Linked DNA regions of Homo sapiens. The protein of the gene in region 2 purifies or fractionates together with the protein of the main gene of each other region. This does not show direct contact. Each region holds a gene or a part of one and is shown on either strand. Other genes may lie near its edges.

Region 1 (3,650 bases), on a different chromosome or scaffold from region 2:
TATTTCTTACAATTACATAGTAATAAGCAAATGCCCCAGTATTCCTCCTCCTCTCCCCCTTAACAGACCCGTATCAGCAACAACTTCTCCCCAAGCTAAGCAGCAGTGGGTGGGCTATCCACAGGGTAACACTCATCAAACAGCAATATGGAGTTGGAGATGGCAGTGGTTGTGGGTGGTGACCAAAGGACTGAGAAATAACATGCACTGGACTTACCCCCTGTTCGAAGAGCTGCAGCAAGCATCTCCCTACACTTCAACCGCACAGAATCAGAAGTGCTTGGTGCCCGAGGAAAGGATGAAACATAAGTATCTCGAGCATTTGTCTCATCCTTTCTGTTGCTTACATTGCCGCTGGAAGTACTGAAATACGCACAAACACCCCAAAAAGAAATCAAGAACAATCCTTTCAAAGTAACAATACTACTATCATGCTGTAAAAACAAAATTTGGGGTCTAAATAAATGACACAGTATCTCAGTGACCTTTATGTGATGGAAAAAAAATTGCCTGCATACAGATTAAAAAGAAGTTAAAAATTTTACAATTTAGTAAAGTGACAAGTATGCCTTTTTTTTGAACTAAACATTTTATCTTTGATTCTCATTTTAAATATTAAGCAATATTTTTAATAGAGAAAATACCCATTATAGCTCAGTACAATAAATGAAAAGCAATGATCTTGGTATAAGGAGAGGGATGAAGGGATGGGACCAGAGAATGACAGCTTTCTTTTTTGAGACGGAGTCTTGCTCTGTCACCCAGGCTGGAGGGCAATGGTGCAATCTCGGCTCACTGCAAGCTCCACCTCCCAGGTTCACACCAGAGAATGACAGCTTTCAACCAAAACTAGAGATAGAGAGAGAGAATGCTTGAAAAACTCTGTTTCACTGGGCATGGTGGCTCACAGCTGTAATCCCAGCACTTTGGGAGGCCAAGAGAGGCAGATCACTTGAGGCCAGTAGAGTTCAAATCCAGCCTGGGCAAAATGGTGAAACCCCGTCTCTATTAAAAATACAAAAATTAGCTGGGCGTGGTGGCACACGCCTGTAATCCCAGCTACTTGGGAGGCTGAGGCAGGAAAATCGCTTGAACCCAGAGGCAGAGGTTTCAGTGAGCCAAGACTGCACCACTGCACTCCAGCCTGGGTGACACAGCGAGACTCCACCTCAAAAAAAAAAAAGAACAAAAAGAAAAAGGAAAACCTTGTTCCACTTAGACAGTGAGTTCCCCAGTGAGACAAATACCATGTGTACTGATGAGTCATGAGGCTACAAAATGGTGTGTTTCTCCCCAGAAACATCACCTCGATATGAACATTTAGGCAGTTTTATAATTTTCCAGTCAACCTAATCCTTTCAATTGCTTCTGAGTAGCTTCTTACGTTGGATTATCACTAAAATGGGTTCTTTCCAAAATAATCTTCATGATTACAATTAAGCTTTATCACATTGAAAACAGCTGCCATAACCCTTTTCAAAGACTGATTAAATCATCCACCATCCATAGATGTGGTTTGCTGCAATGCTACAAGAACATACTCCCTTGCCTTCTCTCCAAAACATAACCACTGTTAAACTTCACAAACAGGTGCCTGTGGGTCAGACGGACATTAGTACCTTTTAAATTTAGTCAGTTCCTTTTTGAAGCCTTCACTGATTTCCCCCTGTATTCCCAAAATATTGATTCACACAGGTTTGTATATGATAACTTTTCATACATTTTCTTCTCTATCAGACTGAGTTTCTCAAGAGCAAAAACTAGGATTTACTTTTCTTTGTATTTTCATTATGTAGCATAATGCCTCTCAGTGATAAATGAATGAGCAAACTAATGCTTAAAAACCCATTTATTATTTTTTTTTTTAAGACTCCAGCCTGAGCAACTGAGCAAGACTTTTCACAGTGGTGAAGAGAGCAAGAGTTGTGCAGTGGTGCCATCACAGCTCATGCAGCTTTGAACTCCTGGGCTCAAGCAATCCTCCTGCCTCAGCCTCCTGAGTAACTAGGACTACAGGTGCATGCCACCATGCCCAGTTAATTTTAAAAATATTTTTTGGCCGGGCAAGCTGGCTCATGCCTGTAATCCCAGGAGTTCAAGAACAGCCCGGACAAAATAGTGAGACCCAGGGTCTACAAAAAGAGTTTTAAAAATTTGCCAAACATGGTGGTATGCACCTGTGGTCCTAGCTACTTGGGGGCTGAAGTAGGGGGCTCGCTTGAGACTGAAAGGTTGAGGCTGCAGAAAGCCTTGACTACGCCACTGCACTCCATCCTGGGTAAAAGAGCAAGACTCTGTCTCCAAAAAAAAAAAATAATCCAACAAACAAACCTTTTTTTTTTGGTAGAGAAAGGGTCTATGTTGTCCAGGCTGGTCTCAAACTCCTGACCTCAAGTGATAATTCCGCCTCGGCGTCCTAAAGTGCTTGAGCCACCGTGCCAGGCCCCAAAACTCATTTCTTTTCTTTTTTTTTTTTTTTTTCTTTTGAGACAGTCTTACGCTGTCACCCAGACTGGAGTGCAGTGAAACAACCATGGCTTACTGCAGCCATGACCCCCAAACTCAGACGGTTCTCCTGCCTCAGCCTCCCAAGTAGCTGGGACCACAGGCATGTGCCATCACACCTGTCTAATGCTTTTTATTACTTGTAGAGACAGGGCCTCCCTATGTTGCTCAGGCTAGTCTCAAACTCCTGGGCTCAAGTGATCCCCCTACCTTGACCTCCCAAAAGTGCTGACATTACAGGTGTGAGCCACCACACCCAGCCAAAAACCCAGTTCTTAAACACTTTGATTAAATGCTTTTGCTTCTGTGTCTGTAGCCAAATGCTCCACAGGAACCAAGGGAAATTGCCCATATGGGCTGAGGGAAACTTTTCCTCACTAGTTTCACTACTGCTGGTCCCACTTCCTACATTCTGATCCTTCCTTTCTAAGCATTTAAACACATTACTTTCTTCTTAAATTCTTGCACCCAAAATATAAAATCCTGCTTAGCTACAAGCAACTTAGATTTAACCTTCTATCTTTCTTTACATGACTCCTCAAAATTCATTTCTCAATCCTCCTGTATTTCTGTGTGTGTTGGGGCGGGGATGGGGTGTAGATAGATACCAATCAGTTACTTTATCAGACTTCACATACAGTAATTTTCTTTTGCAGACAGGCTCTATACCTACACGTCAAGCACGTAAAACTGATAAAAGACAACGAGAGGCCAGGCGCAGTGGCTCACGACAGTAATCCCAGTACTTTGAGAGGCCAAGGTGGGTGGATCACTTGAGGTCAGGAGTTCGAGACCAGCCTGGTCAACATGATGAAACCCCATCTTTACTAAAAGTACAAAAATTAGCTGGGTGTGTTGACGTGCACCTCTAATCCCAGCTACTCGGGAGGCTGAGACAGGAGAATCGCTTGAACCTGGGGGACAGAGGTTGCAGTGAGGCAAGATTGTGCCACTGCATTCCAGCCTGGGCAACAGAGCAAGACTCCGTCTCAAAAAAAAAAATAAAAACAAGGCTGGGCGCGGTGGCTCAGGCCTGTAATCCTAGCACTTTGGGAGGCCAAGGCGGGCGGATCACCTGAGGTCAGGAGTTCAAGACCAGCCTGATCAAAATGGAGAAACCCCGTCTCCACTAAAAATACAAAATT
Region 2 (3,650 bases):
CATTCACAGACTTGTGCATAGTGGCAAATAATTGGAGTTGCCCCAGTGTGCATGTTCCCAGCTGAGGCTCAACAAGGCAATGCTCTGCCTTCTTACTCCAGCTTCCGGACTGTGAACCAAGCGTCCTTTTATTGGTCTATTTAATACCACGTTTTGGGGTTTTTTTTTTCTTTTTCATTTTTGTGCTTTCTCTTGGTGATTTTGCTGTTTAAAATAGTCCCTAAACATAGTGCTGAAAGGCTGTCTTGTGTTCCTCAGTGCAAAAAGGCTGTGATGTGCCTTACAGAGAAAACACGTGTGTTAGACAAGCTTCCTTCAGACGCGAGCTGTAGTGCTGTTGGCCATGAGTTCAGTGTTAGTGAATCAGCGACATATATTCGATAAAGTGTCTTTGAACAGGAACACCATAAAATAAGGTTGTGTGTCTATCAGTTGATGAAAATACGAAGAGAGACTTGTAGGAACCTAACCCTGTATTTCCCCTGGGAATCAGTGGTTCAGTATTCACTCATTGACTATTTGTGGCTACTTTGTAGAATATAACTAGCGCAGATAATGAGAATTGACTATATATGAAGTAACTTAGTCACCAAGATTTTAAAAGGAAGGAAACCCTACTGTTGATTAAACTATACCATCTTTTTAATTTCAGTACATAGGCCGGGTGCGGTGGCTCACACCTGTAATCCCAGCTCTTTGGGAGGCCGAAGCAGATTGTCTGAGGTGAGGAGTTTGAGACCAGCCTGACCAACATGGTGCAACTCCATCTCTACTAAAAATACAAAAATTAGCCAGGCGTGGTGATGGGCATCTGTAATCCCAGCTACTTGGGAGGCTGAGGCAGGAGAATCGCTTGAACCCAGGAGGCAGAGGTTGCAGTTGAGTGGAGATCTCGCCGCTGCACTCTATCCTGTTCTACAGAATGAGACTGTGTCTCAAAAACAAATAATAATTTCAGTACATAGAACTGTGCTAGAAATAGTCAAATCCCCTTGTGATTAGTTACTTTTTATTTTTGTGACCATTCTGTGTATAAAGCAGTGTTAATTTTTTTTCCGTTAAAGAGATTTTATGTCTCTTTATGAAAGAAATAAGACTTTTCTTCATAGTATTGAACATATCTTTGTAAGGGGAGACATTAATATTATTAGTGCATTTGTTTTATTTCTCCATTGTTGTGTAACAAATTATTCCAAAATCTAGGAGCCTATTTATTTATTTATTTTTATTTTTTATTTTTTGAGACAGAGTCTTGCTGTGTCGCCCAGGCTGGAGTGCAATGGCACAATCTGCTGCTCACTGCAACCTCTGTCTCCCAGGTTCAAGTGATTCTCCTGCCTCAGCCTCCTGAGTAGCTGGGATTGTAGGTGCCCACCACCACACCCGTCTAAGTTTTGTAATTTTTTAGTAGGGACAGGGTTTCACCATGTTGGCCAGGCAGGTCTCGAACTCCTGACCTCAAGTGATCCACCTGCCTCGGCCTCCCGAAGTGTTGGAATTATAGGCATGAGCCACCATGCCTGGCGCTAGGAGCCTTTTAGAAAAAAAAAACACACACACACAACAACAAAAAAAAAACATTTTTTTATTAGAGACAGGGTCTCACTCTGTCATCCATGCCGGTGTGCCGTGGCGTGATCATGGCTCGCTGCAGCCTCAGCCTCCTGGGCTCAAGCAGTCTCTCACTTTAGCCTCCCAAGTAGCTGGAATTACAGGCTCGTACCACCATGCTCAGATAATTTTCTTATTTTTAAAATTTTTGTAGAGATAGGTTCTTGCTGTATTGCCCAGGTTAATCTGGAACTCTTGGTCTCAAGCAGTTCTCCCGTCTTGGCCTCCCAAAGCACTGGGATTACAGGCATGAACCATCACACTTGGCCCTAGCAACTTTAAACAATAAACATTTATCTCCTAGTTCCTATGGGTCATAAATTTTGGCATGGCTTAGTTGAGTGGTTCTAGCTGAGACCCTTTGATGCATTTGCGGTCAAGTTGTTGGCTAGAGCTACAGTCATCTGAAGGATGTATGGGTGGTAGAGATTTGCTTCCAAGATGGCTTACTCATGGCTCACTCACACGACTCTTGGAAGGAAACCCTAGTTCATAGCCATGTGGATCTCTCCATGAAGCTATTTGAGTGTCCTTAAAATGCAGCCTATACTTAAGGGGAGGGAAATTAAACTCCATCTCCTGAAGGGAGTACTGTCGAAGAGTTTGAGGACATACAGTCACACCTTACTTAACAGCAGGGATATATTCTGAGAAATGCATTGTTAGGTGATTCATCGTAGTGTGTGCTCACACACACCTGAATGGTGTAGCCTACTACACACCTGGGCCTATGTGTAATAGCCTGTGGCTCCTAGGCTATAACCTGAACAGTATGTCACTGTATTGAATACTGAAGGCCATTTTAGCACAATGGTATTTGTCTATCTAAGCATATCAAACATAGAAAAGGTACAGTAAAAATGTGGTGTTATAATCTTACGGGACCACCATCATATATGCAGTTGACCAAAGAATCATTACGCAGTGCGCGGTTATACTTTAGAACCACTGCAACATTAATATTAGTTCACAGTCCTGTTTTTTCTCCTAGTGGTGAAAGTGCCACAGAAGACACTCCTGATGGATGCTCTTAAAGAAGAATCTGAGATAATCTATGACTTTTGCATGTGCAACCCTCCCTTTTTTGCCAATCAATTGGAAGCCAAGGTAAAATGTCTTCTGCTTTAAAATAATTGAATATAGGCTGGGCGCGGTGGCTCACGCCTGTAATCCCTGCACTTTGGGAGGCCAAGGCGGGTGAATCATGAAGTCAGGAGTTTGAGACCAGCCTGGCCAACATGGTGAAACTCCGTCTCTACTAAAGATACAAAAAAATTAGCCAGGCGTCATGGCCCATGCCTGTAATCCCAGCTACTTGGGAGGTTGAGGCAGGAGAATCGCTAGAACCCGGGAGGCAGAGGTTGCAGTGGGCCAAGATTGCGCCATTGCACTCCAGCCTGGGCTACAGGGCAAGACTCTATCTCAAAAAGAAAAAAAAATCTAAATTTGCCTTATTTGCACAGATAAGAGCAAAGAAAACTTTAAAAAATTAACTTACTATTTTTTAAATTAATATATTTGAGATGAGGTCTCGCTGTGTTGCTCAAGCTGGTCTTGAACATCCGGACTCAAGCAGTCCCCCGCCCGTCAGCTCCCCTAGTAGCTGAGGCCATAGGCGTGTGCTGCAGTGCCTCGCTTTTGAAAGCTGTATACCAGTTAGGGGGCTTTTGGTTTGAAGTACTTTCGGCTCTCTGTATCCACAGGTCCTACACCTGTGGGTTCCGCATCGTGGATTCAGCCAGCCATGCATTGAAAGCATTGGGAAGCTTGCACGGTGACTCACACTTGTAATCCCAGTACTTTGGGAGGCTGAGGTGGGTGGATAGCTTGAGCTCGGAGTTCAAAACCAGCCTGGGCAACGTGGTGAAGCCCTGTCTCTACAAAAACTACAAAAACAATTAACCAGGCACTATGGCGTGTGCCTGTAGACCCAGCTACTTGGGAGGCTGAGGTGGGAGGAAGGCTTGAGCCCAGGAGGTGCAGGTTGCATTGAGCCAGGATCGTGTTACTGCACTCCAGCCTCGGTAACCCTGTCTCAA

Evidence for each region. The genes of interacting proteins can lie anywhere in the genome.
Region 1: the proteins of METTL16 (region 2) and TCEA1 fractionate together in Homo sapiens (co-fractionation; one large-scale study listed by BioGRID). This does not show direct contact.

Annotation. Positions count from the first base shown.
Region 1 is NC_000008.11:53,987,897-53,991,546, forward strand, and holds part of TCEA1 (transcription elongation factor A protein 1), read right to left. Parts: intron 364-3,650; coding exon 218-363; intron 1-217. Other genes in the region: LYPLA1-TCEA1 readthrough, read right to left, coding at 218-363.
Region 2 is NC_000017.11:2,466,829-2,470,478, reverse strand, and holds part of METTL16 (RNA N(6)-adenosine-methyltransferase METTL16), read left to right. Parts: intron 1-2,602; coding exon 2,603-2,718; intron 2,719-3,239; exon of another isoform or gene 3,240-3,425; intron 3,426-3,650. UniProt on the Homo sapiens protein: RNA N6-methyltransferase that methylates adenosine residues at the N(6) position of a subset of RNAs and is involved in S-adenosyl-L-methionine homeostasis by regulating expression of MAT2A transcripts.